Linked DNA regions of Homo sapiens: region 1 is linked to region 2. Evidence: fine-mapped expression QTL. A gene starts in region 2. The other region holds a variant in brackets. All regions are shown on one strand. Distances are between the middles of the regions.

Region 1 (5,367 bases), 100 kb before region 2:
ATACAGAACCACTGATGAGTTTTAAGCAGGTGAAGATGAAGTGATCCCATTTATTTTGGAAAGATATTTGCAGCAGTGTGCATAAGGGACTGAAAGGACATGAGACCAGAAACAGGAAGGTCAATTACAAAGAGGCTACCACAGTAAACCAAGAAGAGGGTGAGAGACTAAACGCAGGGGCAGGGGCCAGGCTGAAAACACGCTTAGGTGGTAAAAACAATGGGACTGACTGATGAGGTTGACTGGTGTGGGAAGGTAACAAGGGAGAGACCCCCTCCCCATGGAGGACATGCTGTTGACTCAGGTCAGCAGATTCTCTGGGATGAAAACCTTCAAACCCTACCTTCCCGCAAATGGTAACGGTGAGGGCTGACAAGCTTTCTCAGGAGTGAGAAAATCCTTCTTCCAAATGAAATCTTAAACTGAACCTTAAGGCTGAAGGATCCAGAGTCCTGGTGGCCTGACCTTTCCCGTCCCCATGCAGAAGGACTCCCTTACAATTCTAGGGATCTGAGAAAAAAAAAAAAAATCTGAAAAGCCCAGGCCAAGTCCAATTGCTGGAGGCTGACGTTCAAAGGATTTTAGGGCAATATGGCTACGTGGTCAGCACGGCCTCTCACCTCTACACCTGACTCTCATTCAGTTGACTTTCCACACCTAGACTATTCCTCCCATCCTGTTAGAGAATCCAGTGTATCTTTAAGGACAAGCCTCCATCCCAGACTCCAAGCAAGCAAGCTCCCTGACTTCTGCAGCACTAACCCCTGCAGCCTCATGGGCACTGGGCAAACTGACTGTGGAGAGATATTAATTTTCTCTTTGATGTGTGTAGTCATCTCCAATGGGGGCTGGCCTCAGGCTTCCTCAGGATCTTCTTGGCTTCAAAAATGCCTTGTACTTGATAGGCCAGAAATATTATTATAGACTAACTTATTACACTCACTCCATCCCATCAACCCTAGAAAGTAAGACAAACAACTGTAATGACTACACAAGAAAAAAGAGAAGAGGAAAAAAAGCAGAGAGGTGTCATGACTTTGAAATGAAGGACCATACATTACAAAGATGTTCAATTGCATTTTTTGGGGGTGGGGGACAGGGTCTTGCTTTGTTACTCAGGCTGGAGTACAGTGGTGCAACCATGGCTCACCATGGCTTCAACCTCCCACGCTCAAGTGATTCTCCTGCCTCAGTCTCCCAATCAGCCAGGACTACAGGTATGCACCAGCACACCTGATTAATTTTCTAATTTTTTGTAGAGACAGAGTCTCGATATGTTGCTGGGGCTGGTCTTGAATTCCTGGGTTCAAGCAATCCTCCTGCTTCAGCTTCCCAAAGTGTTGGGATTACAGGCATGAGCCACTGCGCCTGGCCTCAATTGCATTTTGTATATAAATAAAATAAAAATCTCAATGGAATGGTTAAAATGCACTAAATAAAATAATACCAAAAATCGTATAAATATTTTGCAAAGAAAGAAAAAAATACCAAAAATATCTTTAAAAGATCCAATAGAAAATATCACATATGGCAAACTGGAAGGTTGCAAAGTAGACCCCAGGGGCTGCTGGATGTACAAGTGAAGCTAGGTATTGAGGCTGGGGAGACTGAGGGTTTCCAACTAATACTTCCTTTATTGACTTGGTTTTGACCAGAGAAGACTAAGAGTCCTTCTAGGGGGCAATATGAACTATCTTATTCATATTTTAGCCTCCAGCATCTAATGGAACTGACACATAACAGGTGTTCAATTATTCTTTTAGGATTGTAAAAACTAAACATTGTGAGGCTAAAGAATATTCTGGCAAAGACAGCAATTATGGGAATGAAACATGGAGTTGAAAAAGATTAATCCAGGCCGAGTGCAGCAGTTCACGCCTGTAATCCCAGCACTTTGGGAGGCTGAGGCAGGAGAGTCACTTGAGCGCAGGAGTTGGAGATCAGCCTGGGCAACATGGCGAAACCCCATCTCTACAAAAAATACAAGAATTAGCTGAGCATGGTGGTGTGCACCTGAAGTTCCAGCTACTTGGGAGGCTGAGGTGGGAGGATTACTTGAGCCTGGGAGATCGAGGCTGCAATGAGCCATGACTGTGCCACGGCACACCAGCCTAGGTGACAAAGTGAGACCCTGTCTCAAAACAAACAAACAAACAAACAAACAAACAAA[CAAAA/A]AACCCAAGAAAAAGACCCAGAGAAAAAGTTGAATTTTACCAGCTATTAAAGCACTTTTGAGAGTAAAAATTTAGGAAACATGATTTTGGTATAAAAACAAGAAAGTAAAATCAGTAAAACAAAAGAAATCTTAGAAAAGACTCTTTTTTTTTGAGATGAAGTCTCGCTCTTGTCCTCCAGGCTGGAGTGCAATGGCGCAATCTCGGCTCACTGCAACCTCTGCCTCCTGGGTTCCAGCGATTCTCCTGCTTCAGCCTCCTGAGTAGCTGGGATTACAGGCACCTGTCACCACGCCCGGCTAATTTTTGTATTTTTAGTAGAGACGGGGTTTCACCATGTTGGCCAGGCTGGTCTCAAACTCCTGACCTCAGGTGATCCGCCCGCCTCGGCCTCCCAAAGCGCTGGGATTACAGGCGTGAGCCACCGCGCCTGGCCTAAAAAGACTCAATTTTAAGAACTGAATATTTGATAAAGTAATTGTCACAAAATATAGGGGAAGGCTATCAAAAGGTAGTACTATGATAACTGAATAAACATATGAAGGGAAAGAAATCACTTTAGATCCATGCTCTGTATTTGGACAGGCTACCAAAGACCTACCAGGACTGTTCATTTCTGCAAGTTTTTAAGACTTTTATTCTCTCTCTGGGTCCATGTTGGCTTGTGCCCATTTCTTTTTTATCAAAGGATTCACATATTGACCTTATTACCCTGGTAGAACCCCCTTCCATAAGCTCCAATGAGCCACACCAGCCCTTCTGCTGAACTGAAACTGCCCTATCAAGCAAATATTATCCCACATTCAGAGGGTCAGCTGAAACCAGTTGAAAGTTGAGAATTATTTTTGTCAGTTTTTCAATGGGAGATTGGCTTATGGAGTAAAAGTAGACTTAAAGAATGATGCCACTGGCTGCGCATGCTGGCTCACACCTGTAATCCCACCACTTTAGGAGGCTGATGTGGGAGGATCACTTGAGCTCAGGAGTTCAAGACCAGCTTGGGCAACATGGTGAGACCCCATCTCTACGAAACATATTTTAAAAAGTTGCCAAGCTTGGTGGTGCATGCCTGTGGTCCCAGCTACTCGGGAGGATCACTTGAGCCCAAGCAGTCAAGGCTGCAGTGAGCCATGATCACGCCACTGCAGCGCTCCAGCCTGGGTGATAGAGCAAGATCCTGTCTCAAAAAGAAAAGAAAAGAAAAAAAAAAGTCACCTGCTCAGGTTCACAAAATAAATTACAAATTTAAATTTAAATTTATAATAATCTTGTCTGGGCATATAATAATGACTCATATAATAATGAGTCCGGTGGCTCATGCCTGTAATCCCAGCACTTCAGGAGGCTGAGGCGGGTGGATCACCTGAGGTCAGGAGTTCAAGACCAGCTTGGCCAACATGGTGAAACCCCGTCTCTACTAAAAATATAAAAATTAGCTGGGGGTAGTAGCACTCACCTGTAATCCCAGCTACTCGGGAGGCTGAGGCAGGAGAATTGCTTGAACCTGGGAGGCGGACATTGCAGTGAGCCGAGATTGCGCCACTGCACTCCAGCCTGGGTGACAGAGCAAGATTCCATCTCAAAAAATAAAAAAATTAAAAATAAATAAATAAAATAATCTCATCTCTGATGATACAGCATGGCATCTGCTGGCATTTGTGAAGCAGTATCACAGCAATAAACCATTATTAAAGCATACTACGTGGAGGACACCGATTAAGTCCCATGGGAGATAGAAAAATTAACAGCACTGTCGTGTCCTCTTTCGAGGTGACAGGGAGACAAGATAAAGGTGAAAAGTTAGATCACACTTAGATATAATAAAAGATAAGCTAAAAGTTAGGACCAGATGACTGCTAAACAGATGACACAGACAACTGGCATGGATGTCCACAGGAGGGACGGCAAAGTCAGCTCCAACAAGGATGGTCATCAGAGAAGAGGCACGCTTTCAGATGGGGCTTGGAAAATAGATGGGATTTGCTGAGGCCAGTGTGGAGGAGTGAAGGCACAGAGGAAGGGAAGCAAAAGAGAAGAAAGTGATGAAAGTGAGGAGGGGCTTGAACTGAGGTCCCACATGGGAATTTTCTGCTGAGAGAGTGCCCACTTTTAAGGCACCCCACGCAGATGTGCTACCAGAACAAGCAGTCAACAGTGTGTGCGTGCCAGCAAGCACTCAGAACACAGCATAATTTCCAATCAAAGACAACAGTTTTTGACCACAGGAAGTGCTCAAAATCATACTATGCCCTGAGTCACATAAGGTTTCCAGATAGAACCCCCACAGAAAAGTAAAGGAATCCTGGACGCTGAGAATCTCCCATCAGGGTAGCACACCATGCAAACAATTCCTTGGAGTTCACCACTCACCACCCTCCCAAAGCAGGCCCAGGAAGAATGAAACAGAAATCTGCTTTATTTTTATTCTGAGCAAATAATTTTACTAAAAAAGATAAAATTTTCTGAAATAGGCTAGCCTGAAAAGGAGTAGGAAGCAGCAGCAAAACGGGAAGGATGAGGATGCAGTGAGAAAAAGGACTAAGAATGAGAGGTTGAGGCCGGGCGCAGTGGCTCATGCCTGCGATCCCAGCACTTTGGCCAAGTGCGGGCGGATCACCTGAGGTCAGGAGTTCGAGACCAGCCTGGCCAACATGGTAAAACCTCATCTCTACTAAAAATACAAAAATTAGCTGGGTGTGGTGGTGCATGCCTGTAATCCCATCTACGTGGGAGGCTGAGGCAGGAGGCAGGAGAATCACTGGAACCTGGGAGGTGGAGGTTGCAATGAGCCAAGATCGCACCACTGCACTCCAGCCTGGGCGACAAAGCGAGACTCCATTTCAAAAACAAAAACAAAAGAATGAGAGGTTGGCCAGAGTAACAGAGAACCGAACTTTTCTCCATCAGAAACTTCCCCACCCTTGTCTACTGCCTGGGTGTGAGGCCTTGTGCTAGAATTTCTGCCCTAAACACAAGAGCATAAGCTATAAAACCAGAAATTCCATTTGACACATGAGCTGGCTCTGAGACTCTCCATTATTCTTCAGGGGCCTCAAGGTGAGAGACATTGTCACACATTCACGGCCTTTCCAAGTGCCAACAACATCACTAGCCAGTCTTGGCAAGGCAGGCCAGGGCTCTGGCTTCTTGCACAGGCTCTCAGAAACCCTGAGCTGCTCATATGGCAAGACAG
Region 2 (5,367 bases):
GGGGGGAGGGGCGAAGGCGGGGGGGAAGGGAAGGACACTCCTAGGGTTGCTGGCTTAGAGGTGGAAGGGGAGAGAGGGTACTCTATGCAATGGCTCAGAGAAGGAAGGAGGGAAAGTGAGAAAGAGAATAAAGATCTGCGAGCAGCTGCAATCCCCTTTTCCAAAGGACACAAAGCTGCAAAGCCCAGAGATAGGAAGGGAGAGAGCAAACAGCAGAGGAAAGAAAATGGGGCAATGGAAAAAGATCTACCTCCCCCCACACTACTAACCTAGTGGAAGTGGGGGAAATGGGGGAGACACTCCCAGACTCCAGAGAGTAGTAACAATCAACCAACCCCCACCTATTTACCCAGATCTCTCAGGATCCCTGGGGAGAGAACCCTCAGGGTTAGGGCGCAGAGAGAGAATCTGCAGTCTCAGAGCCTGGAGAGCCTAAGGCCCAATCCAGCCCCTTTGCCTCTGCAGCAGAGGGATGGAAAGAAAGATATGCCTGAAAGGGGAAGTGCTCAATGGGGAATGGGTGGGCCACGGGTGGTGAGCTGCGAGGAGCAGGTCTGATAGGAACTAAATGGGAAGAGAAGGAGCCTGGCAGGATACAAGGGGAAGGAAAAAAAAAAAAAAGGTGAGGAAGGAAACAAGTCCAAGAGGAACAGAATTGGGAGAGGGATATCAAAGGGGAGTGATAATCTATCACAGCACTGAGGCAGCTCCAAGAGGAAGGTGGGGGGGAATACATAGGAAAGAATGATTAAGAAGACATCGTAATGTCACAATTGGAGTGAGAACTCCAAAAGAAGACAAGAGGCAGAACAGTGGAGGGTGGGCAAATAAAGCAGAGTGAAGGGTGAGGGCTGAATCAAAATGGTGGGGGGAAGAGACTGTCATGTGGAAAACTTAAAAGACTCGGGAGGGAACAGAGAGGGGACACAGTGACAAGAACCCCAGTGTTAAAGGACCGCTCCAAGAAAGGACGGCAATACAGAAGTTAAAAACCGGTCTAAAAATATGCGGGCAAGTGGACAGCTCCGAAGGAGCCGAGCTGGGGAGGGAAACACTAAATAAAGAGGATGGAGCAGAATTGAAAAAAACGAGAAGAAAGTGTAGGTACAAAATGGATCTAGGGGCAGGTCTGTGAGATGCAGAACAGGAAGGGGATGGGTGACCAGCCCGGGAGGTATCAGAGGTATAGTGAGGTTAAAGGGCATGTCTAAGGGCTAAAACGGGGAGGAGAGGAATTGGAGCAAAGAGGGGACAGGAAGCAGTTTTCAGGCAGAGAACTGAAGGAGAGACAGGCCAAAGAAAGGAGAAGCAAATGAATGCAGTAGCTCAGAGGAGTGCCAAAAAGGAGGTGGGGAAGAGAGGAAACCTCCAAGAGAACACGGGCTGAAACTGAAGGCAGTCTGAGTTAGGGATACATCATTTAAGTGAATAGCAGAAATGGGAGACCTGCAGAGTCAGAGAAGGGGGAGGAGGCTGCTTCCCGGGAAGGCAGAGTCAGAAGCAAGCAGGTGAGGGGAGCGCAGCAAGATCTGAGGTCGGGCAAGGGGCAGAGCTGAGAGGCAGAAAGGTCTGGAAGAGAGGAAAGGGTCTGAATGGTAAACGGGAACAAGAGCTGAGAAGGGGAACAGGCAAGCACGGTGCAGCCAAGTCCGAGGGGATCAGGGGAATGAGCTGGGGCACGGAAGGGTCAGAAAGCCAGCCGAGGGGCATCCCGGGGTGCAGCAGGCTCTGCGAGAGGGCAGACAAGAAATGCGGGTAGTAGGGCCCACGAGGGAACGGGATTCAGTCCAAGGGGAAGACCTGGGGCAGCAGTGCCTGGCCGAACAGGGGTCTCAGATGGATCTCCAAAGGGTTGGAACCGCAGGTCCTAAAGGGACAGCTCCCAGGGTGCAACAGATTCTGAGACAGGAATAATAGCACAGAAGGTAGGTCAAAGAAGGGGCCGAGGACAGATCTGAAGGGTGGTGAGAGCAGAATCGAGAAGAGGGAGAAGCGTCACGGATCTCAAAAGTGGGAGCCACAATTAAGAGATGCAGAATGGTCAATGAGGAGAAGATGGGTCCCAGGAGCACTGCAGAGCCCGGGAGGAGCGAAGGGCATTATGGAGGGGTGGAAGGGGGAAGGGGGGCGCAGAATTGGGAACCGGTTGGCTGAAGTCGGGTAGGCTCCGAGGCAGACACCGAGATCCCAACGGGTCGGGGATGGGGGCGGCGGCGGGGACAGCAGGGCTGGGGCGGGCAGGGGCAGGTCCAAAGGGCAGGAGGGCCCCACGGGCCGGGCCGACGCGCGAAGCGACGGGGACGGCGGGGCCCGGGGGGCTGGGGGGGGGGCCGCTCCTCCCCTCCCCCTCCAGCTCCTCCATTGTTCGCGGGCTCCGGGCCCCGCCGTCCCCGCCTCCCCCTGGACCCCGCAGCGGGGCGGCGCCCGGCCTCGCCGCCCGGGGCCCGTGAGCTCGCGCACTCACCAGCTGGGCGCCCTCAGCGCGGCCCCGGCCTCCAAAATCCCGGCAGCAACGACGGGGGCCCCGGCGCCATGTTCCCCTGCTCCTAGTCCAGCGGCGGCTGAGGCGGCGGCGGCGGCTCCGGCGGCGGGGGGCCGGGCGGACCCTCCCTCGCGGGTTCCCTCCTCCGCCTCCTCCACCTCCTCCTGCCGCCGCGCCGCGGCTCTCCCTCGGGGCGGGGGGCGGGGAGGGGAAGGGGGGAGGGGCGGCAACCAGGGGGAGGGCGGACCAGCCTCGCTCACTCCCTCCCTCCCTCCCTCCCTCGCAATGGCGGCAGCGGCGGCACCTCCTTCCTGCGACGGCCGCTCCCGCGCGCGCGCCCCCTCGCTACTGCGCGTGCGCGGCGCGTGGACCGTTGCAGGGGTATAACGGCCCCTGGGCGCGCGCCGCGAAGGGACAACCAGCGAGGCAGTGGGAAGAGGTCAGAGCGCGTGCGCACCCGAGGGGCTTACTGCCACAGCCGCTGCCTGAGGTTAGGAACGGCCGCGGACGGTGCAGTGCGCGTGCGCCCCCGAAAATGCCGCTATTGCGGCGGCCGCCGTCGCGACTGAGCGCGAGGCGACTTGCAAACGAGCAGAGGGAGCGGGATGGGCGAGCGCGCGTGCGCGGGGGGCTGCCAGCCGGCGCAGCTGCTGGCGCAGGGCGGAGGGAGTGGTCCGCAGGAGCTGCGCGCGCGTCTCAAGCAGCCGATCTACTGCCTCGCGCTGGCTCCTGGAGAAAGCCGAAGGAGAGAGGCATGGCCCGGTTTTGGGGGTGGGGGGCGAAGGGCGCGATCCCGCTCGCGCGGGACCTGACCAGCCAATGGGAAGCAATGGGAGGTGGGTTTGCCGCGCGAGCCGCAGCCGCCGGGATAACGGAGGAGGCCAGAAGGAGCGACGTAACGTGGGGCGGTGGGGCGGGGCTGAGAAGGAGGGAGCGCACCAGAGAGGGAGTTGATTGGAGGATATGAGGAGGCGTGGCCCGCCTCAGCCCAATCCGAGCCCCGCAATTCGTCGTCCCGGAAGAAGAGGCGGGGCTGGAGAGCGCGTGCTCTTTCTCCTGGCTGTGAAGAAAATCTGCAGCCAACGCGCGCGTCCATGCAACTTGTTTTTGGTTCTGTGAACGACTGATCCCCAGGAGAGGGAAGACGGCCTGGTCCTGTGTGCAGCCCAAGCCTGTCACTTAGCATTGTGCAAATGGCTACAAATCGAATGTCAATTAGGGCGCCTGAAGGGAAAAGAGTAGTGATGGGAGAGGGCACCGCTGTAACCCTTGACTCCTCTGAACTGAGGAGGTGTTCCTCTGGGACTCCTCCGGAAGTACAGATCGTGGAAGATGAGCTTCCCGGGCGCCGAGCCAATATTTGTGGAATGCATGAAGAAAGGCTGTTTCCTATTACATTTGGCATTTCTGCCATCAGTCTCTTCATCTATAAAATGGGATAATAATCGTACCTCTCTCGTAGGGCTGCTGTGAAAATTAAATAGATTATATTTTGCAAAGCTCTTGAAATCATGCATTGCATACATAGTAAGCGCTCTGTAAGCGTTGATAAATAAAATTACAGGGGCTTGTTTATTCCATTAATAAAGATTTTTATATTAAAGGATGTTTCCATTGACTTTTTTTTTTTTTTTAATGTAGCACTTTTAGGGCCAGGCGCGGTGGCTCATGCCTGTAATCCCAGCACTTTGGGAGGCCGAGGCGGGCGGATCACTTGCGGTCAGGAGTTCGAGACCAGCCTGGCCAACATGAAACCCCGTCTCTACTAAAAATACAAAAATGAGGTGGGCGTCGTGACGGGCGCCTGTAATCCCAGCTACTCGGGAGGCTGAGGCAGGAGAATCGCTTGAACTCGGGAAGCGGAGGTTGCAGTGAGCAGAGATAGCACTGGACTCCAGCCTGGGCAGCAGAGGGAAACTCCGTCTCAAAAAAAAAAAAAAAAAGGCACTTTTAATGCATTCAGTCTGATTTTTAGATGTTAGTGGCTTGAAACAACAACAACTTTTCTTTAAGCACTGCGGGGCTGCCAAATCGAGTGCGTGGACTGTCATTACAAACCGTGATGTGTAAGGGACTTTTGAGATTACTTGAGGAGACACAGGAAAGACAAGGTGGGGGGCAGTGAATTCCTGATACCTGTATTTCAAATTAATGTCTTTACAACGCCTATGCAGTGTTCCGAGTCTTTTCAATCTTAAATTTGTGAGCTGGCAGCATCTGGAGAACAAGGACGCTTGGGCTCACTCTGGATCCCCCAAACCCCTTGGGAGCCCATCAGCTCTGATTTACCCTTCAACTCTCAGCTTGAAGTCACCTTCTCAGGGTAGTCTCCCAGATTTGGCCTGATCCCTCGTTCTTTAATAATAAAAATGAGTACTTCGTGCCAAGCAACAGTCTTTTTTTATTTTTATTTTTTATTTTGAGGCAGAGTCTGGGATTACCAGCGTGCGCCCCGCTAATTTTTGTTTTTGTTGTTTTCTCAAGACAGAGTCTTGTTCTGTCACCCAGGCTGGAGTGCAGTGGTGTGATCTCGGCTCACTGCAACCTCCACCTCCCGGGTTCAAGTGATTCTTCTGCCTCAGCCTCCTGAGTAGCTGGGACTACAGGCGCCACATCTGGCTAATTTTTGTATTTTTAGTAGGGACAGGGTTTCACCTGTTCGGGCCAGGCTGGTCCCGAAGTCCTGGCCTCAAGCCATCCACCCACCTCAGCCTCCCAAAGTGCTGGGATTACAGGTGTGAGCCACTGAGCCTGGCCGCAACAGTCTTTTTTGTTTGTTTGTTTGTTTGTTTTTTGAGATGGAGTCTCACTCTGGCATCCAAGTTGGAGTGCAATGGCGAGGTCTCGGCTCACTGCAACCTCCACCTCCCAGGTTCAAGCGATTT

What was found. PIP is the estimated chance that this variant, and not a neighbour inherited with it, causes the effect.
Region 1: its variant is the best candidate, but not a certain one, in a credible set for the expression of ARHGAP35 in whole blood (INTERVAL, PIP 0.80).

The regions. Positions count from the first base shown.
Region 1 is chr19:46,962,274-46,967,640 of GRCh38, reverse strand. The region is part of intron 3 of ARHGAP35 (Rho GTPase activating protein 35); the gene reads right to left. Among named protein-coding and RNA genes, the nearest start is that of NPAS1, 55 kb to the left of the region's middle. RefSeq lists an enhancer at 3,530-4,729. The variant CAAAA/A (reference allele first, on the strand shown) is at 2,171.
Region 2 is chr19:46,858,307-46,863,673 of GRCh38, reverse strand. It overlaps ARHGAP35 (Rho GTPase activating protein 35), which reads right to left and starts at 2,677. Exons shown (of 7, transcript NM_004491.5): 1 at 2,465-2,677. LOC124904791 (translation initiation factor IF-2-like) reads left to right here. Exons shown (of 4, transcript XM_047439803.1): 2 at 466-552; 3 at 2,354-2,617; 4 at 2,778-4,085. The coding sequence ends at 3,449. RefSeq lists a silencer at 2,369-2,908.